3 linked regions of the Homo sapiens genome follow. The protein of the gene in region 1 purifies or fractionates together with the protein of each later gene. This does not show direct contact. Each region holds a gene or a part of one and is shown in the gene's direction. Other genes may lie near its edges. The genes, in order: CASP10, MAP3K14 and TNFRSF10B.

Region 1 (7,107 bases):
AGGGTTTCTCTGTTTAGGTGAGGACGGGTCTGTGGTGGAGATGGGAGGATCTCCCATCTAGTGTTCATTCTGGCCATTGGGCTTTGAAAGGAAGCTGCAGTTAAGATCTTTTGGTTATCTACCTCCTTGGATGATAAACCAGGAGATTCTAAACCTCCTTCTCAGCCTCTGATGCTAATGAGATAAGAGTTGGGAGGTCAGCAAAGCTTCAAGACCAAGCCCTGGGCCCAGAGGTGGCTTCCCTTTGTTTTGCTTCTCACTAGCAGTGAAGCCCACCTCAGTGTGGCAGAGCCCGTGTTTTCCCTGCTTACCAGCGGCTACACGTGCAGATCTTCTCCCTCCTGGGATCCACTAGTCTGTCTACCTGTTTCCCGGGGTCTTGAGAAGAGAGTAATGCATACTTGGAGTGAAATAAGCAAGATGAAAAAAGAGATGTGTTTCTGGGGTAGGGAGGGATGTCATTTATGCCATGTCTAGTTATAGAAATTTCTATATTTTTGGGTGGGAATCCAGAAAGGTAAAAACAGGCATTTTGCCCAAAGAGGTAAAATTTAGGCATTGGTCTTATCATGGATGACAGCGTTTTATTTTTATTTTGAGACAGAGTCTCGCTCTGTCACTCAGGCTGGAGTGAAGTGGCACCATCTCAGCTCACTGCAACCTCCGCTTCCTGGGTTCGAGCGATTCTCCTGCCTCAGCCTCCTGAGTAGCTGGGACTACAGGCACCCACCACCACACCTGGCTAATTTTTGTATTTTTAGTAGAGACAGGGTTTCCAACATGTTGGCCAGGCTGGTCTGGAACTCCTAGCCTCAAGTGATCCACGCACCTCGGCCTCCCAAAGTGCTGGGATTATAGGTGTGAGCCACTGTGCCAGGCTGATGACAGTGTTTAAAATTGTTCACTGACATAGTGTCCACATCAGAGAACCTCACGAAGAGGAGCCTTTGGAGGGTGTTTTATGGTCTCTGCGATTAGAACACATTAAGCCTTAGCGGTGGAACTGGCTTCCAGAACCTGAGTTGCCCTTGAGTCAGTGGAAGGAATGATGAATTCCAGAAATCCATATTTCCATTCTGCTGGCTAAACATCTGAGGGACAGTCTCTGACACATAGGGGTGTTAGTATGTGGATGAAATCCTCACTGTTTCTGGTTGTGGATTATATCTCGAAGCTGGGGTAGTTTTCTTCCCTTTTCAATATACAACCGACTGTACCTTGGCTGGCCTGGGGTCCTATCTACCAAGGGCCTGTAAAGTAAGCCTGAATTTCTTGATGGAATCAGGAGATGGGAAGGCATGTCAGAATTGTGTTTTATGCCTTTTTTTTTTTAAATATGCCTTCTTAGTGTGGTGAAAAACAGCATTAGACTTGGAGTCAGAAGGCCTGCTTCTACCACTTACTGTGTTATCTTTATTTAAACAAGTCACTTAGAAACTGAAAGTTTTCATTTTTTGAACCTATAAATGGGATTAATAATTGTCTACACATAGAGTTGATCATTCAAATGACAGAAAACATTTATGAAAGCACTTGATTGATTATGGTGTCCTCCACAAGTGTAAGGCTTTATTTGTCATTTTGGGTGTGTGTCTTAGAAACCTGCTCTACGAACTGTCAGAAGGCATTGACTCAGAGAACTTAAAGGACATGATCTTCCTTCTGAAAGACTCGCTTCCCAAAACTGAAATGGTGAGTGGGTCATACAGAATGGGTCTGTGTGAGCACTGTCTTAATCAATGATTAGAAAGATGCTGGAAAGGGTTTTTAGGGAGATTTATTTTTTATGGGAGACAGTATCATACAATGGTTACGAACATTGGCTTTGGTGCTGGATGAGCCTAGATTCTGGTCCTGATTCTAATTCTAAACCCATGCTGTGAGGCCAATGATTGAACTTTTCTGAGTCTCTATTTTCTTAGACGTAAAATTGTGGGCAATCGTATGACTTCCTTCTAGGATTGTTGGGAGAATTAGCTGGAATAATGTTCATGAAGCATTAGCATGAGGCCAATATTTGGTATAGCATTCAGTAAATGCTCACTTCTGTTGGAATCTGTTGTGTTTTGTTTTTGTTTTTGTTTTTTTTTGAGACGAAGTCTTGCCTTGTTGCCCAGGCTGGAGTGCAGTGGCATGATCTCAGCTCACTGCAACCTCCACCTCCTGGGTTCAAGCCATTCTCCTACCTCAGCCTCCCTAGTAGCTGGGATTACAGGCATGCACCACCATGCCCAGCTAATTTTTGTATTTTTAGTACAGACAGGGTTTCACCCTGTTGGGCAGGCTGGTCTAGAACTCCTGACTTCAAGTGATCTGCCTGCCTTGGCCTCCCAAAGTGTTGGGATTACAGGTGTGAGTCACCGCACCTGGCCTTGTCCAGTTTTTTCTTTCAAGTGCCTTTTAATCTGTAGGTTAGATTTCCTCCCTGCCCCCAAATCTCTTTCTTTTTCTTAAAATGTATCTGTTGAAGAATCTCTGGGCGGTTGGCCTGTGGAGTTTCTCACAGGCTGAGTTTTGCTGATTGCACACTCGTGGTGCAGTTTGGCATGTTCCTCTGTCCTCTGCATTTCCTGCAGACTGGCAGCTGAATCCAGAGGCTTCATCAGACTCAGGTCAGATCCGTTTGGCAAGACTATAGGTAGTCTTGTTTTTTCATCAGGAGGTACCTGATTTTCTCTCTCTTTTTCTTTGATATTAGCAACTGTTGATGTTCAACCATTTTATATATTGAATTTTGAGGGGTTGCAAAAATGGAGATATTAGAATTTTTTTTTTTTTTTGAGATGGAGTCTCACTCTTGTCACCCAGGCTGAAGTGCAATGGCACAATTTCAGCTCACTACAACCTCTGCCTCCTGGGTTCAAGCGATTCTCCTGCCTCAGCCTCCTGAGTAGCTGGGATTACAGCAGCCTGCCACTACGCCTGGCTAACTTTTTGTATTTTTAGTAGAGATAGGGTTTCACCATATTGGCTAGGCTGGTCTGGAACTCCTGACTTTAGGTGATCCACCCGTCTCGGCCTCCCAAAGTGCTGAGATTACAAGTGTGAGCCACCATACCCGGCCACATATTAGAATTGTATCATTTCGTTTTCCCTTCATCCATTATTTGGTTACCCAGTGATACAGCTTATATGTGAATCCTTGATTCTTTTCTTTCAGTTATTTTTTTTTTTTTTTTGAGACGGTGTCTCACTTGGTCATCCAGGCTGGAGTTCAGTGGTGTGATCTTGGCTCACTGCAACCTCTGCCTCCCAGGTTCAGGTGATTCTCCTGCCTCAGCCTCCTGAATATCTGGGATTACAAGCAGGCACCACCATGCCTGTCTAATTTTTGTATTTTTAGTAGAGACAGGGTTTCATTTGGCCAGGTTGGTCTCAAATTCTTGACCTCAAGTGATCTACCTGCCTCAGCCTCCCAAAGTTCTGGGGATTACAGGCATGAACCACTGTGCTTTGCCTAGTTATCCAGTTTTTAAGTTAATTGGTATCTTATCATTCTCTGAAGGTGACCCATTACAAAATATATATAAATTTAAACTCATGGATTTAAACATATGTGAGGTATTTCAATCTACTGCAATTATTATCCTTACTGAAGTTCAAACTGAGGCTGGGCATGGTGGCTCATGCCTGTAATCCCAGCACTTTGGGAGTCTGAGGTGGACAGGTCACTTGAGCCTCAGGAGTTTGAGACTAGACTGGGCAACATGACAAAACCCGGTCTCTACAAAAAATACAAAAATTAGCTGGGTGTGGTGGCGTGCACCTGTAGTCCCAGCTCCTCAGGAGGCTGACATGGGAGGATCGCTCGAGCCCAGAGAAGTCAAGGCTGCAGTGAGCAATGGCTGTGCCATTGCACTCCAGCCTGGGTAACAGAGTGAGACCCTGTCTCAAAAAAATAGTTCAATTGTCCCATTTTTTCCCAGGGGATACATCTTCAGTTTGGTTCCTAAGTCATTTTGACATGACCTTAGTAGTCTTTGATGGCTTCTTTACTATCTGGCAAAAATATCCCAGGTTCATCTTGTATATTTTCTACCCAGTCCTGGAATCTCTCATTTCTCCCAAAAATCCTGACTTCTTTTAATGAGAGATGTCATTTCAAGACCACAAACTCGATGCTGGCATGCTCATTGCTTTTGAGTAAATATATATGCACACACTACGTATATACACATATGTATACACACACACACACACATGCACACACACACATGACCTAAAGGTTCAGTAATTCTTGGAGAATTTTAAAAATCAGGCGATTTTGTTTTAGGGAATTCTTTTTTATAAAACATTGTAAGGATCTTCTGCTTTTGCCGTAAAATTTCAGTGCCCACATTTGCAGTGGTACAAAGCAATTACCTGCTCAAATGGTAGCATTATACCTTAAATACAGAATTTCTCAAAGTCAGAGGAGATTCCTGTAGTTTGACAAGCGCTCCAGGTGGTTTTCATAACATTCTCTCCCAAGTTGGGGCATCCGCTCACAAATTTTCCAGTGTCTAGGTTTATACATAAAATGAGACCACTTTTTATTGTTATACCCCGTCCTATGTTAGGGACTCTCTGAACAATATGAGGTGGCGGGTGAGGGACGAGAGAAAGGTCATTTGTTAAAGCAATCTCTGATATTCGAAACACTGAGTGTTAGTTTTCAAACAAGAAAAGCTGGAAAATGTTTTTTTTTCTCTTTTGCTTGCACAGGTTCTAGAACTCTACTTGAAGGCATCTGTGGCTACAGAATTATTATTATTATTATTATTATTATTTTTAGACAGAGTTTCACTCTTGTTGCCCAGTCTGGAGTGCAATGGTGCCATCTCGGCTCACTGCAACCTCTGCCTCCTGGGTTCAAGTGATCCTCCTGCCTCAGCCTCCTGAGTAGCTGGGATTACAGGCGCCCACCACCACACCCAGCTAATTTTTGTATTTTTAGTAGAGGTGGGGTTTCACCATGTTGGCCAGGCTGGTCTTGAACTCCTGACCTCAGGTGATCCACCTGCCTCAGCCTCCCAAAGTGTTGGGATTACAGGTATGAGCCACTGTGCCTGCCCAGAATTATTTTTATGGTCAGAAGCATTCCAAACATTTCCCCCCTACTAAAATAGCTTTTAAATGATCAAATGCACATGTTCATGTGGCCAAATGATCTTGTTTTTCTCAGTATAACAGTAAAAGGAAACGTAACTGTGCTTAGCTGTGGCATGGAATTGTGATATTACCAGGTCAAATTCAGGAAAACCATATTTCCTCTTTGGATTCCAAATGATCTCAGCTTTTTTTTGTTGGGGGCGGGGTGGGGAGATCTCATTTTTTGTGTCAGAATTGTGGCTGAGTTACACACCTCAGATAATCCAGGTTGATCTGTATTGGATTTTGCAATCAGACCAGCCTTTGGAAGTGTGTAAAGGACAGTCTCTAAGCAACACAGATGTTTCCACACCAGGGCTCAGTGAGGCTGCATTATCTGCAACTGCAATTGCAAAAGACCTTATCACAGAAATAAATTACTTACCCACCATTGGAAAAGGGCCTGAACACCCCTCAGCCAAAACGGAAAGGTTCTAAATTCTTACAGTCTCTCTGGGGAAACACAAATAACCTTGCCTTTGAGGGGCATTCTGGGCTTTGTCTTTGATAGCTTTCATAGAAATGTAAGCAGTATAGCTGGCCTACACATATCCTGAGAGATCTCACAACTGTCAGGAAATCCGTTCTCAGCACAGCAATCAGCATACAACATTGAGTCTAAAGGAAACCACACCTGAACTTACTCTTTAACAAAAAAGCAAAAAAAGAACTTTCAGATGTTTGCTGCTAGTATTTGCCAGAGTGGTGTTAAACTAATGTCCAGGTCCCATTTAAGTATGTGCGTGTGTATGTGTGTGATGTACTAAACATCTAATAAACTTTTAGAAAGTATAATGAATTTCCGTAATTGCTTCTGGAATCACATCTTAGCCCTTTATTCCTCCTGGTAGGATGCTGTCAAGACATGAGTTTCTGGCCTGGCAGGGTGGCTCATGCCTGTAATCCCAGCACTTTGGGAGGCCAAGGCAAGCAGATCACCTGAGGTCAGGAGTTTGAGACCAGCCTGGCCAACATGGTGAAACCCATCTCTGTTAAAAATACAAAAATTAGCTGGATGTGGTGGCATGAGCCTGTAATCCCAGCTACTCAGGAGGCTGAGGCAGGAGAATGGCTTGAATGGAGGTGGAGGTTGCTTTGAGCTGAGATTGCACTACTGCACTCTAGCCTGGGAGACAGAGTGAGAGACTCCATCTCAAAATAATAATAATAATAATAATAATAATAATAGCTGAATTGTGATTTTTTGTTTCAGAAAATTCTTTTTCTTTTAAAATATCAAATATAAAATTCTTTCGAAACATTTTCCCCTCATTTCTTTGGTGTCCCTCTTTTGCTGGCTTCCTAAGCAGTATCATTTAAAGCTGTGACTTAGAGTTCAGTGGTTAATAACATAGACTTTGGCATCAGATTGTACCAGCTCTGCCATTAATTAGCTTTGTGACCTTCGGCAAGTTACTGGAATTTCTTTGTGCCTCAATTATTTCATCTTTAAAATGTGGATTATAATAATATCTACTTATTCAGTTGTTGTGCTGTTAATATACAGCAAGCACTGTCCCTGTTGCATAGAGTTATATATATATTTGGTATCTGGTATTAATATAGATTGTATACAGATTTGCTTGGTAATGCCTCTTCCCCTACATTCCTGAGCAACTTGAGGGCAGATGCTGTTATATCTTATTTATCAGTGCAAAACCTAGTGCCTACTGGCCATGCAGATAACATTTGAGTGAGTGGATAATCAATAGGCAAGTAAATGTAACTCTATTGATTCTCTTGTAGACCTCCCTAAGTTTCCTGGCATTTCTAGAGAAACAAGGTAAAATAGATGAAGATAATCTGACATGCCTGGAGGACCTCTGCAAAACAGTTGTACCTAAACTTTTGAGAAACATAGAGAAATACAAAAGAGAGAAAGGTAAGTAGCTTGTGATTGCTAACTTGGACCAGACCATGGAAATTCTTAAACCAATTGGCCATGCATGATGTTTTGATTATTTGTTTTGTTTTGTT
Region 2 (7,107 bases), on another chromosome or scaffold:
TCAGTCTCCCAAAGTGCTGGGATTACAGGCATGAGCCACTGCCTGACCCTTTTTTCTAATATCTGTTGAAGAAAGTAGAGCTAAGCAAAAATTACAAATACAAATCACCAGGAAAAAAACCACTGTTCACATCTGCCATCTATCCTTTCAGTCTTTTACGCATATAAGTTTTCTATTACAATTTTTAAATTTCACTTACTAGTATTTCTTACTAGTAAGAAGTATTACTTACTGGTATTACTTACTAGCCTTCTACAACCTAATTTGTAATGTCCAGCCCCTGCCCCATTTTTAAAAAACACTTTAAGGGTTTGGTCCAAAGGGCAGAGTCCACATCATGGATGCTCTGTTACTTTGTACAAGTTCCCAGCAGAGTCCCCGCCTAGCTCCTCCCTACAAGTCTGACTTGGAGACTTTATTTCTATATTTAAAGTATTTTAACATGTCCGGGCACAGTGGCTCATGCCTGTAATCTCAGCACTTTGGGAGGCCGAGGTGGGTGGATCACCTGAGGTCAGGAGTTCGAGACCAGCCTGGCCAACATGGGTGAAACCCCATCTCTACAAAAACATAAAAATTAGCTGGGCATGGTGGCTCATGCCTGTAATTCCAGCTACTTGGGAGGCTGAGGCAGGAGAATCTCTTGAACCCGGGAGGTGGAGGTTGCAGTGAGCCAAGATCGCGCCATTGTACTCCAGCCTGGGTGACAGAGCAAGACTCCATCTCAAAGAACTAAAAAGATAATAAAATAAAAAGTACTTTAACAGTGACAAATGTAAGATACCCCGAGGATTAACCAGGGTGGCCATTGCCTAGGCTCCTGCCCATCAGCATTCCAGGTAACTTTATGTCTCATCCCCCTTCTCAGGGGACTACATCCCTGGCACAGAGACCCACATGGCTCCGGAGGTGGTGCTGGGCAGGAGCTGCGACGCCAAGGTGGATGTCTGGAGCAGCTGCTGTATGATGCTGCACATGCTCAACGGCTGCCACCCCTGGACTCAGTTCTTCCGAGGGCCGCTCTGCCTCAAGGTCGGTGACGGCACCCAGCATGGCCAACAGGGGGAGCTGCAGGGCCCTGGGGCCCAGGCTGCAGGCTGGAGGGGCTGCTCTGCGGTGGCAGATGGAGCAAGGGGAGGCCTGGTCATCCATGTGGGATCCTAATTCAAATACTTGCCACCCAAATCTGGGGGTACAAGGGGAGATCCAGCTGCGGAGGCTCACCAAGTTCATGGCAGGTGAGAACTCTCTTCTGTCCATACCCTGGGCCCCATCCACCTGCCTCCTAACGGGCCGGGCCTGGAGGCTGTGGGCGTCTTGCTGCCTGGCTCTGGCCTGTTTTACTGGCTCCATTTGTCCCTTTCCTGGGAAAAGTGCCCTCACTGTAGCCCAGACCCCTCCATTCCTTGTGGTAGACCCCAGCACAGCGGGAACAGGGGCCGGCGGGAGTTGCGCAAAGAGCAATAACAGCCGGGTATCAGGAAATGAGGGAAGGCAGGCCTCACCTGTTGTCTTTTGCCCCCCAGATTGCCAGCGAGCCTCCGCCTGTGAGGGAGATCCCACCCTCCTGCGCCCCTCTCACAGCCCAGGCCATCCAAGAGGGGCTGAGGAAAGAGCCCATCCACCGCGTGTCTGCAGCGGAGCTGGGAGGGAAGGTGAACCGGGCACTACAGCAAGGTAGGAAGAGCCCCACGCTGGCTGACCCGGGGGGCAGAAGACAGAGGTGGACAGAGGAGGCAGGTGGGCGCAGGTCCAGAGCAAGGCACCCCTCAGAGCCTTAGTTTCCCCCTCTGGATTATGGGGGTGCAGCAGCCTCAGGGTTGTTGGGAGATTGCGACAGTGCCACGCCTGGACCCAGAGGCAGCGCTCAGGAGATGGGAAAGAGAAAACTCACACGCAAACTCGAAGTGCTTTTTCCATTCTCCCACTCAACTACAATCAACCCAGAAGACTCCTGTGACCACATGTGTGGGGATTTCCACCCCACCAAGCCAGCAATCAGTTCTGCAGCAGACACTAGCTTGGTGTCCTCTAATTCAGTTCTGTTCCAACACTATCTACCTGGAGGTAGCATCAGATCCCACAGCAGGAGGGCTCGATCCCCAAGACTGCACCCCCTAGCCATGCCAGTCTCAGGCCCACGTGTTTACCTGTGCTTCTGACCAACTGGCTATAAGTCAGGGACCCCATGACCCCCTCCTTGGGATTGATTAATTTGCTGGAGTGGCTCACAGAACTCAGAGAAACACTTCCTTACATTTACCAGTTTATTAGAAAGGATATTACAAAGGATACAAATGAAGAGATGCATAGGGCAAGGCATGTGGGAGGGAGCACAGAGCTTCCAGGGCTTGGCACCCTCCAGGAACCTCCATGTGCCCAGCTACCAGAAGTTCTCTGAACCCGGTCTTCTTGGGTTTTTGTGTAGGCTTCATTACGTAGGCATGATTGAATAAATCACTGGCCATTGGCGAACCGCTTAACCTTTAGCCCCCTTCCCTCCCAGTACGTGGGATGGTGGGATGAAAGTCCCAACCCTCTAATCCTGCCTATGTCTCTCTGATGACCAGCCCCCATCTTGAAGCTACCTAGGGGCTGCCAGCCTTCAGTCAATCCATTAGTACACAGAAAGAGATCATTTTGGAGAGTAAGGCTTTTAGGAGTTCTGTGCCAGAAATGGGGTTAAAGATAAAATATATGTTTACTAGTATCATAAGGGTTATGATGTATAGAGGGGGCTCAAACTCACTAGGAATCCAAGAATACAAAATAAAGACAGGCCGGGAGCAGTGGCTCACACCTGTAATCCCAGCACTTTGGGAGGCTGGGGCAGGAGGATCGCTTGAGGCCAGGAGTTCAAGATCAGCCTGGGCAACATAGCAAGACCCTTTCTCTGCAAAAAAATTTAAAAATTAGCCAGGCATGGTGGCACATGCGTGTAGTCCTAGCTACTCAGGAGGTGAGAGGATTGTTTGAGCCTGGAAGGTCGAGGCTGCAGTGAGCCATGATTGCACCACTGCACTCCAGCCTGCGCAACAGAGACCCGACTCAAAAAATAAATAAATAAATAAAGCCAGGTAACACTCAAGAGCCATTTGACTGGAAAAAAGCAGAAAGTTGGTGGGATGTAGGGCTGTTGGGACCCCTCAGGTGCTGCTGATGGGCATGTGGACAAGGCTACCCACTCTGGGGGGGCACCTGGCTGCACTCAGGCAGACGTCTGCAGACTGAGACCAAGGACTTCTACCCCTGGGTGCACTGACAAACGAATGCCAGCAGATCCATATGGGGACACGCCTGAGGACGCGCACTACAGCTTCCTTTGTGGGAGGGGAGTAGGGTACGATGGGGTCCCTCACTGGGAGGACAGAGACACAAAAGGGGATGCCTCATGGAGCACCAAGCAGTTAAAGCAACTCGGCGTTCACAGAGCAGCATGGATGGATCCTAAAGCCATGGTGCCGAGTGAAAAGAGAACCCGACACAGAATGGGACCCAGAACATAATGCCTGTTTGGTAAACTAAAAATTGATCAATAGCCAGGTATGGTGGCGCACATCTGTAGTCCCAGCCACTCAGAAGATTGAGGTGGAAGGATCGCTTGAGCCCAGGAGTTGGAGTCCAGCCTGGGCAACATGATGAGACCTCATCTCTTTAAAAAAATAAAAATAAAAATAAATTGATAAATAAAACAACGCACATTTTGCAAGGACACAACCAAATCAAAAATGACACATCAAACATAATAGAATGTCACCTGAGGGATGGGCACAAAAAAGGCTGTGATTATAGGAATGAAAATGAAATAAAGAAAACCAGAGAGATCTTGCACCTCACCAAAGACAGCTGGTAGTTATAAGGATGAGGGTGGTCCCAGGGCTGAACTAGCCCCATGCCAGAACAAACGGTGCCTGGGGAAGTACCGACTGAGGATGGGGTAGGAGAGATGGTGGGTCCAGGATGCCACTTTGCCTGGGAGCTCTTGAGTTGGTGTAGCCCCAGGGCTGTTTTCAATCTTCTCTTTCTTGTTAACAAAGTCCTCTGGAGCTGATTCTGTAGTTTTTGAATTTGCTACTGATACCTAGAAGAAAAACAGAATCAAAGACAGAAATCCAGTCCTATCCCTGTCATATTGGGACCATTTTATTGAGGAAGTCTCCTGTGGAGACCACCATGCTGCCCTCTGGAGCCACCTCCCATGGTGGCCCGGGGCAGTGTCCTCCCCTTTGTTTGCCTCTAGCCCTTCTGCACTCAGGAGAGGCCGCTCCTGCCTGGACCGCTGTCTGTGCACAGCACGCTTCCCCTCACCATTGTACTCTCTGTTTTCTAGTGGGAGGTCTGAAGAGCCCTTGGAGGGGAGAATATAAAGAACCAAGACATCCACCGCCAAATCAAGCCAATTACCACCAGACCCTCCATGCCCAGCCGAGAGAGCTTTCGCCAAGGGCCCCAGGGCCCCGGCCAGCTGAGGAGACAACAGGCAGAGCCCCTAAGCTCCAGCCTCCTCTCCCACCAGAGCCCCCAGAGCCAAACAAGTCTCCTCCCTTGACTTTGAGCAAGGAGGAGTCTGGGATGTGGGAACCCTTACCTCTGTCCTCCCTGGAGCCAGCCCCTGCCAGAAACCCCAGCTCACCAGAGCGGAAAGCAACCGTCCCGGAGCAGGAACTGCAGCAGCTGGAAATAGGTACGGGCAGCCGTGGCTGCAGTGGGGCCCTGAGCACTGGCCCTGGGCCACCCGCGGAGGCCGGTGTTTCTCTTTACCTGCGGTGTGGGCTTTCTTCCAGCCCCTTCCCCAGCAGCTCAGCTTCTACCGACTGTGCAGGAAGAACCCCTGAAAACACAGCCAGCCTCCTCCCAGTCTTTCACAGCCATCTTCCACTTTTCCCTGCAGAATTATTCCTCAACAGCCTGTCCCAGCCATTTTCTCTGGAGGAGCAGGAGCAAATTCTCTCGTGCCTCAGCATCGACAGCCTCTCCCTGTCGGATGACAGTGAGAAGGTGAGTCGGTTGTGGCCCCGGAGCCATGGCTCCAGGGGTGTGGTTTTCCCGGCCCTGGCACAGAGCAAGTAGCTTTGCGTCCAGCTAGTGAATGGACACTGTGCAAGTAGTGGGTAAAGGGAGGGTGATGGGGGTCACCCCTTCCTTCTGGTGGGGGTCCTCACTAGGTTGGGGGAGGTGGTCATGGTTCAGAGTCAGAGAAACCATGGGAATCTACCCTTCTGGGATTAGGGAATGTGTTTTGCCACCAGAGATAATGGGGAGGCAGGCCTTCGTCCCCCATGGAGGCAACCCTTACCCTCCTCCAGCTGAGGGCATGAGCAGTGCCCCTTTTCCCCAAATGAGACCCAAGCCGGAGATGGATCCTGGAGCCCAGGGCCCTGAGCCCGTACCCAATCCTGTTGTTTCAGAACCCATCAAAGGCCTCTCAAAGCTCGCGGGACACCCTGAGCTCAGGCGTACACTCCTGGAGCAGCCAGGCCGAGGCTCGAAGCTCCAGCTGGAACATGGTGCTGGCCCGGGGGCGGCCCACCGACACCCCAAGCTATTTCAATGGTACAGTCCAATTCCCACCTGCTCAGCAGTCCCCGTGGCAGCTGATCTGCCTGGAGCTAGACAGCCATTGAGGGATTTTGTCTCCCCTCCTCTGGCACAGTGGGAGGGAGGAAGGCGCCTGGTCCCAGAACTTGAGGTTCCTGGCCAGTAAGTTGGGTTTCAAGCAAAGGTCCCAATCACCCATGAGCCTTTCCTGATGGGGCAGTGAGGGACCATTATCCCCTCATTGTCAGTTGATGGAGTCCCAGAAGGTTCCCCTAGCTTGGGGAGGAGAGCAGTCTCTTGACCTGGAGTCAGGAAAATGAGCAATTAATCTCTTCTAAAGGGAAAAGGAACAGGACCCATGAGCATTTTAATCAAAAACTCAGCAAAAGGAATCCCCCTCTGGGATTTGAGGTCAGATGAGAAAGACAACATAAAATTCCTTCGTTTTCAAGCTTGATTGCATAGGTTATGATGTGGCTTTGCTACAACAAGGGCATCATCAGCTTGGAGTTCCCTGGCCCTCTCCAGGGCAAGTGTGACTCATGGCATCAGGGCCCCATGGCTGGCCAAAGGCCACTTCAACTCAGGCAACAATCTAAATTGCCCATAATCTAATTTAAGAATCCTTGTGTTCAGTTCCTTTCTGCTTTGCATCCAAGTTGAAATACTACTTCCCCATAGGAGCCAGCCCCAGCTCTTAGCAATGCACAGGCCAAATCCCAGGTGCTGACGGCCAGGAAGAACTAGCAGGTGTATATAATATGAGGGCTGTTCCAGCCTGAATTTTTTTTTTCTTATAAAAATGCAGCTTTGTGACCAGGTGTGGTGGCCCACACCTGTAATCCCAGCACTTTGGGAGGCCAAGGCAGGTGGATTACATGAGGTCAGGGGTTCGAGACCAGCCTGGCCAACATGGTGAAACCCCGTCTCTACTAAAAATACAAAAATTAGCTGGGTATAGTGGCGCATGCCTGTAATCCCAGCTACTTGAGAGGCTGAGGCAGGAGAATCACTTGAACCCGGGAGGTAAAGGTTGCAGTGAACTGAGATCACGCCACTGCACTCCAGCCAGGGCGACACAGTGAGACTCTGTCTCAAAAACAAAAAAATGCAGCTGTGCTTAGACCAGCCTAAATTTTATCTCTGCTGCTCCATCACAGCCAGACCTGCTCCCCCTACATAGGGCAGAGTGACTTTTAACAAAAACGTTCCCCCAGCCCCTGCCAGGACCCTGGTCCTTGGGGAGCCAGCAGCCGCTCTCCTGACTATCACCTTGTCCGCCTTCTAGGTGTGAAAGTCCAAATACAGTCTCTTAATGGTGAACACCTGCACATCCGGGAGTTCCACCGGGTCAAAGTGGGAGACATCGCCACTGGCATCAGCAGCCAGGTAAGGGGGGCAGGTACACTCTGACGGGCAGAGTCCCAGAAGCCAATGCAGCTGGCCCCACCCTCCAGGAGGAAAGCTTTCAAAGAAGTAGAATGGCACTCTAGGGAATACTTGGAATTGGCCTTCAACGTCCCCCAGGACCTCAAAGCATTTCCCAGGGCCTCAAAGCAAGGCTGGCAG
Region 3 (7,107 bases), on another chromosome or scaffold:
AAAAATAAAATAAATAAATGTGTGGCTTATATTTCTTTTGGCAGTGCTGGTTTAAGGTGTGTAAATGCAGAATTGATGAACTGACCAAGCTAGGTAGAGGAGATTTCCCTCTTTTGGTTCCACACATCCCTGAAAGAGGAGTCCCCCAGCCACCACTGCCAGCTTCTGGGAATCCTGTGGCATTTCATTCACCGGCTTTTCTCTCCCCTCCCAGGACACCATATCTCAGAAGACGGTAGAGATTGCATCTCCTGCAAATATGGACAGGACTATAGCACTCACTGGAATGACCTCCTTTTCTGCTTGCGCTGCACCAGGTGTGATTCAGGTACAGAACATATGGACCCCATGCCTAAAGGTGGAATGCGGGGTGATGACATAAAAGTTGTAGCTAAAATGGGATCAGGAGACCTAGATTCTGGTCCACCTTGGTCTTCATCATACCATGTTCCATGATTTTGTCTTTGAGCTTTTTAATAAATAAAACAGGCCCGGCACAGTGGCTCATGCCTGTAATCTCAACACTTTGGGAGGCATCACTTGAGCCCAGGAGTTTGAAACCATCCTGGGCAACATGAGAAACCCCGTCTCTACAAAAATATAAACATTAGCCGGGCATGGTGGCGCGTGCCTGTATTTCCAGCTACTTAGGAAGCTGAGGCAGAAGGATCTCTTGAGCCCAGGAGGCCGAGGTTGCAGGGAGCCGAGATTGTGCCACTGCATTCCAGCCCAGGCAACAGAGCAAAACCCTGTCTCAATAATTAATTAAAATAATAATAATACAGAAATTATTTGTATAATGTATGCTACATGGTAAGGAAATCTTTTAAACTGTCAGCTGCAAGGGGGTGGGGCCATGAGCCAGGCCAAGTGGACAGGGCTGGATCTCAGCAGTGGCACAGGTCTGCTTTGGGGCCAGGCTCTCTCCCCTGGGCTCTGTGCTCCTGGCAGGTGCTCGGCCTCACTCACCCTTCAGGTTCTCAGGCCTCTCCCTCCTCCCCAGCAGGCTGGGCCTTGGGGAAGTCCCCCAAGGGCTCCTCTCCTTGCAGTCTCTCAGGTGATCCCTTGCACTTCCCTTGCTACTGGCCATGCAATCTAAACGATGCTTGTCCCCTAAACGGTGCTTTCCCCTAATCTAATGTAATAAATAATGAACTGTGGTCCTTTTGTATGACTCAACGAGTGTTAGTGACAGCTGAAGGGTGGGTATCCTGAATGAGCCATGAGTGTGCTGGTGCAGAAACTGGCCCTCAGAACTCCTTGGCAAACTGAGTTGAGCTGAGTAGCAGGGTCTTGGGGTGGGGAGGAAGGGTCAAGGGACACATCAGGAAAACACATTCCCAAAACCTTATGCTCTGTCGTCAGGTGAAGTGGAGCTAAGTCCCTGCACCACGACCAGAAACACAGTGTGTCAGTGCGAAGAAGGCACCTTCCGGGAAGAAGATTCTCCTGAGATGTGCCGGAAGTGCCGCACAGGGTGAGACAGGAGCCGGGGGCTCCCAGTAGCTCCATGGAACCCCAAAAGACCCAAGTCTCCTTGTACCCCTGTCTCTCCCCTGACAGCACCCGCAAGGGGCATCCTTGAGGCTGTGGCTGCCCCTCCTGGTCCCTCTGCGTGTCACCACCCCTGCCCCCTGCAGCAGCCTCTTTCCACCCCTCCCCAGCACGAGTCCCCTTGACCAGGCTGACTTGTTCACTGACCACAGAAGGCCATGACTTGGGGCCCATGATAATTTTAGGGGCCCATGAAATGATTTAATTTCTCTTGAAATAAGAAGAATGAGTAGAATGCAGCCAGGCATATATTCATCTTTATACCAATTCAGCAATAAAATGTATTTTTTAATATTTTTATGCATGCAGGGGCCCATAAAGACAAAAGTGCCCATGGCCCACAAAAGGCATAATAAGGCCATGGGTGGAGCTCCTTCAAGTTCCCATGAGGACCTGAGCCCACCCAGCCGGCCTCACCCCTGGCCCCTGATCCCTCAGTAAGACCTGTCTTTTCCCTATTTGGGTTTTAGGGGCCAAGAGTAATTTGCTCTTCTCTGGCCCCCCTAGTATTTGCTGTGATTGGGGGAAATGGGCAGACAGCTGGGGACAAGAGCTCACTTTTGTGGTTGACTGGAAGACCGGACTCATCTTGTGGCCACACGGGCTTGTGACCTTCCCCTGGAGTGTGATTGCTCCTAACGCAGGCCTCCCCTGCAGCCCAGGGAAGCTCAGTGTGTGCCCAGCACAGAAGGCTCCTGGAACTGCAGCTCTGACCCCAGAGCAGGGAGGCCGAGGGGCTGAAGTGCGCATGCTCAGACCCTTCCCCAGCCTCAAGAAGGGAGCACAGGGGGACCCACTGCTGACACGAGGAGACTGTCCTTCCCCTGACACCTTCTCAGGGACACTGGGGAGGGAGGGTGGCTCCTCTTTCATCCCACCTGGCCAGCTTTCCATCAAGAGTCCCCCCTCTCCCTCTGTGTGTGTACCCAGGTGTCCCAGAGGGATGGTCAAGGTCGGTGATTGTACACCCTGGAGTGACATCGAATGTGTCCACAAAGAATCAGGTACAAAGCACAGTGGGGAAGTCCCAGCTGTGGAGGAGACGGTGACCTCCAGCCCAGGGACTCCTGCCTCTCCCTGTTCTCTCTCAGGCATCATCATAGGAGTCACAGTTGCAGCCGTAGTCTTGATTGTGGCTGTGTTTGTTTGCAAGTCTTTACTGTGGAAGAAAGTCCTTCCTTACCTGAAAGGCATCTGCTCAGGTAGGTGCTGGCTGAGGGCGGGGGCACAGGGCACTCTCTGCCCTGCCCCCTCCCACCCTATTCCCACAGACAGAAACGCCTGCCCCTGCCCCAAGTCTAAGTGCCTCCAGCCTGGCTCTATCCTCCTCCTCGTGGTCACCCCCATCCCCACATCCCGTGCACCCCCCAGGACCCTGGTCTCTTCAGTCCCTCTCCCAGGTCTGGGGGTCCCCATATCTCCCAGCCAAGTCCAGGAGGGCAGGGCCAGTTCCTCCCATCTTCAGGCCCAGCCAGGCAGGGGGCAGTCGGCTCCTCAACTGGGTGACAAGGGTGAGGATGAGAAGTGGTCGTGGGATTTTTTCAGCCTTGGTCAGAGCAGAACCAGAGATTTTCCAAGTGTTTGTTTTTACTCTAGTTCCCCTTCTCATCCCCCTTCCTCAGGGTGTCTCTGAGTTGTAAGGCCCCATTCTGTCCCCAGCCCCAGGGCTCCTTGTCCAGTGTCCCAGCCCCCAGCCCAGCCCTGCGCCCCACTGTCCTCTGGGAGGGGGGTGCTTCATGGGCCCCTCCCTTCCTGCTAAGGAGACTGCTTCTTTTTTAGGTGGTGGTGGGGACCCTGAGCGTGTGGACAGAGTGAGTTGATTTCTCCAGGAGCTGGGGGCTCAGGGGTTCAGGAACTGCTTCCTGGGACAGCAGAACCTGGGTGGGTGGGTCCCCATTGTCCTCATGGCTGCCCTGACTCTCTGAAGTGGCCTGGGTGCTCTGGGCTGACTGTGGGGGACACATGGCCATTTTGAGCACCACATAGGCTGGTGAGCCCTGCTGCAGCCCAGGTGACATCCTCACCCCACAGCCTGCACCCTAGGGATGGGGTGTCTGCCTGAGCACAGCACTGGGGGCCTGGCCCCAGCAGCGGGTCCTGGATGTGCTGAGTCTGGGCTGCCTGCGGTGACCTCACTGAGAGGGGGTGGGGATGTCAGGTGCAGCTGCATACTGAGGACCCTGCAGCGAGCCCTAGGTGTGGACTCCTGAGTCGGCTTTTTGCCTTCCCAATGTCTTTTTCCAGAGCTCACAACGACCTGGGGCTGAGGACAATGTCCTCAATGAGATCGTGAGTATCTTGCAGCCCACCCAGGTCCCTGAGCAGGAAATGGAAGTCCAGGAGCCAGCAGAGCCAACAGGTGTCAACATGTTGTCCCCCGGGGAGTCAGAGCATCTGCTGGTGAGTGGGGGACAGATCATTTTGTTTCCTGGCATGCTGCTCACCTGGGATTTCGTAGACAGTGGGAGAGGGCAGTGCCTTAGCTCTCCTGGCCCAGGGGAAATGGAACCTGAAGGAGCCAGGGGACTGCAGGGGATGGAGCAGCTGCACTGAGGTGGTGACCGTGCCAGTCTGCAGGACATCTGCTTCTTACTCCCTGTCCTGTCCTTGCTGTGTCCCCCGAGCCTGGAGCTCCACAGGCATAGAGTGGGGGTCACAGGGTTCATTGATGAGTGAATAAGGCTGCACAGTCTCCATCGTATGCTCCTAACAGAAGTCAGTGAGCCCTTGCTTGTAACAGCAGGAGTTTTAAATTTACTCTGAAATTGTTATTACATTGAACATATTTCAAAGTTCGTAGGGCAGCTTCCAAAAAGTAGGATTCCAAGTCGATGCACAAAGGGCTTTTGTATTGGACACACGCACACAATCAGTTCATATCAATCCATCAGTTTTGATGTGATATTGAGTAGGCAGGAAATCTGTATATACATTTATTGTTCATTGCTCGTAAGCACTGAAAGTCCTTCCCTCGAACATAAGATGAGACTATCCAGTTTCCTGCAGTGTTTTATTTTTAATGATTTGATTTTTAACATACAGCAATATAATCTAAACAGAATTGAATTTTCGATTCAATATAAGCTGAGAAACTCCCTGAATTATTCTGAGTCTCTGTTTCCTTCTTCCAAGCCCATTTAGCAACCAATTCTTCCTTTTTCCCTTGCCTTTGCCCTTTTGCCACCTCCTTTGCTACATGTCAAATGTTTACTTTTTTCTCTCTTCCTCTTCACTCTTTTTTAAAAAAACAAACAAACAAAAAAAAACTAGATCTTATCCTTGAAAATGTCAAATGTTTATATGGGCAGAGATCTCTTCCACCTAGACTGTTTCTGTTTCTTCCTTGCATCTGTACCACTTTCTTTTTAAATAAAGAGAAGAGATTTTAAAAGGAAACAAATGAACAATGCCAATACTTCCTCCATGCTTATTAATGACTTTGAAGATTTTTTTTTTTGAGACAGGATCTTGCTCTATCACCTGGGCTGGAGTGCAGTGGCACCATCTTGGCTCATTGCAACCCCTGCCTCCTGGGCTCATGTCATCCTCTCACCTCAGCTTCCTGAGTAGCTGGAACTATAGGCATGTGCCACCGTGCCCAGCTAAGTTTTGTATTTTTTGTAGAGACGAGGTTTGGTCATGTTGCCTAGGCTGGTCTCGAACTCCTGAACTCAGGCAATCCACCCTCCTTGGCCTCCCAAAATGCTGGGATTACAAGCATGAGCCACCATGCCTGGCCTGATCATTTTTTGAAAGCAGGTCACCCATAGCCACACATCCACCAGAGTATGAAAAAACTTGATCATACCAAGAGCCTTCTTTACTCTTTCCCAGCCTTTTGGCCCTTCTTATTTCAGGTAACTACAGTGGATAATTTCTTGTGATTCTTTGCTAAACTCTTTATGCATATACCATCTAGGTACATAAATGCATATGTATTTATGTGGTATTGACATGAAAAGGATTATATCATGTACAACACCAAACAAAACTGTCTAATATGTTTTAATATCTTAGACAGCAAATATGTTTTCAAAATTATTTTTACACATCTTATAATTTAGAATTAGATAAAATTTAGAATTATAAGATTTTCTCTAGTACCCCTCCCGCCCACATAGTCACTAGACTTTACAAATATTAATTTAAATTAATACATGGTTCTAGGAATGATTGACATCCTTTCAACATTCAATTTTATTATCAAAGAAGATAATATTTCAAGTCAAGTGTTCTATTATGACTCAATCGAGATTTGGGAGTTTATTTCAGATAAATTTTTCCTATTCCTCATCAAAGCTGTTTCTTTGCATTTTGGGTCTTCTTGTAAGTCCATTTTCTAATTTATTATGTCTGCTGCTACTTTTCTTTTCTTTCTTTCTGAGATGGGTCTCACTCTTGTCACCCAGGCTGGAGTGCAGTGGTACAATCATGGCTCACTGCAGCCTTGACCTTCTAAGGCCAAGTAAGCTCGGACTTACCGGCTTCTGAGTAGCTCGGACGACAGTTTTGTGCCACTACACCCAGCTTATTTTATTTTATTTTATTTTATTTTTAGAAACAGGATCTCGCTATGTCGCCTAGGCTGGTCTCAAACTCCTGGGCTCAAGCAGTCTTCACACCTCAGCCTCCCAGAGTGCTGGGATTACAGGTGTGAGCCACCATGCCTGGCCTCTGCTATGTGGTTTAACATTCATCAGGGCTAGGTGCAGTGGCTCACGCCTGTAATCCCAGCACTTTGGGAGGCCGAGGCGGATGGATCATCTGAGGTAAGGAGTTTGAGACTAGCCTGGCCAACATGGTGAAACCCTGTCTCTACTAAAAATATAAAAATACGATAAAATAATTAGCTGGGCATGGTGGTGCACACCTGTAATCCCAGCTACTTGGGAGGCTGAGGCAGGAGAATCTCTTGAACCCAGAGGTGGAGGTTGCAGTGAGCCAAGATCGCACTATTGCACTCCAGCCTGGGAGACGGAGTGAGACTCTGTCTCGAAAAAAAAAAAAATCATCAAGACATATTCACTTTTGAGTATTACAAATTAAACCTTGGGGTTTTAAAAATATACACTCCTAATCTAAAATATTGACTGCTGTATCGGCCTCCTTCCGAGAGTCTTGCCCCTTTGTCTCCTGTCTTGTTGCCAGACCTTTCAGAACAATGTTCTGGAAGTGACGTGCTGCAGGTCTCAGAGCTGGCTGGTGGTCGGGGTCAGTACTGGACTGTAGGACTCCTGGCTCTGACCAGGACATTCCCCACTATGTGTTACAGGAACCGGCAGAAGCTGAAAGGTCTCAGAGGAGGAGGCTGCTGGTTCCAGCAAATGAAGGTGATCCCACTGAGAGTAAGTGTTTTGCTCCTGGAGATGCAGCAGGAATGGAGGGAATAGGGACAGGGTCCTAACTGCTGTCCCCAGAGGTCAGAGGGCTCTTCCAGAGTATTCCATGCTGGAAGCCGTGGGTCCTGTGCTATAGACCATCTGGACCCTAAACTGTCTTCTCCCATCTCTTCTCCCCACTCTACCTCATCCTCTCTGCACCCTATCATTGACC

What was found.
Region 2: the proteins of CASP10 (region 1) and MAP3K14 purify together in Homo sapiens (affinity purification with western blotting; 2 studies listed by BioGRID and IntAct, with this or other methods). This does not show direct contact.
Region 3: the proteins of CASP10 (region 1) and TNFRSF10B purify together in Homo sapiens (affinity purification with western blotting; 2 studies listed by BioGRID, with this or other methods). This does not show direct contact.

Annotation. Positions count from the first base shown.
Region 1 is NC_000002.12:201,186,108-201,193,214, forward strand, and holds part of CASP10 (caspase-10 isoform 1 preproprotein), read left to right. Parts: coding exon 1-17; intron 18-1,598; coding exon 1,599-1,692; intron 1,693-6,876; coding exon 6,877-7,012; intron 7,013-7,107. UniProt on the Homo sapiens protein: Involved in the activation cascade of caspases responsible for apoptosis execution. Recruited to both Fas- and TNFR-1 receptors in a FADD dependent manner. May participate in the granzyme B apoptotic pathways.
Region 2 is NC_000017.11:45,264,983-45,272,089, reverse strand, and holds part of MAP3K14 (mitogen-activated protein kinase kinase kinase 14), read left to right. Parts: intron 1-868; coding exon 869-1,032; intron 1,033-1,526; coding exon 1,527-1,677; intron 1,678-3,459; exon of another isoform or gene 3,460-4,081; intron 4,082-4,330; coding exon 4,331-4,684; coding exon of another isoform or gene 4,685-4,891; coding exon 4,892-4,998; intron 4,999-5,408; coding exon 5,409-5,553; intron 5,554-5,571; exon of another isoform or gene 5,572-5,840; intron 5,841-6,826; coding exon 6,827-6,927; intron 6,928-7,107.
Region 3 is NC_000008.11:23,023,980-23,031,086, reverse strand, and holds part of TNFRSF10B (tumor necrosis factor receptor superfamily member 10B isoform 1 precursor), read left to right. Parts: intron 1-214; coding exon 215-328; intron 329-1,365; coding exon 1,366-1,477; intron 1,478-2,484; coding exon 2,485-2,756; intron 2,757-3,333; coding exon 3,334-3,365; intron 3,366-3,798; coding exon 3,799-3,954; intron 3,955-6,826; coding exon 6,827-6,899; intron 6,900-7,107. UniProt on the Homo sapiens protein: Receptor for the cytotoxic ligand TNFSF10/TRAIL. The adapter molecule FADD recruits caspase-8 to the activated receptor.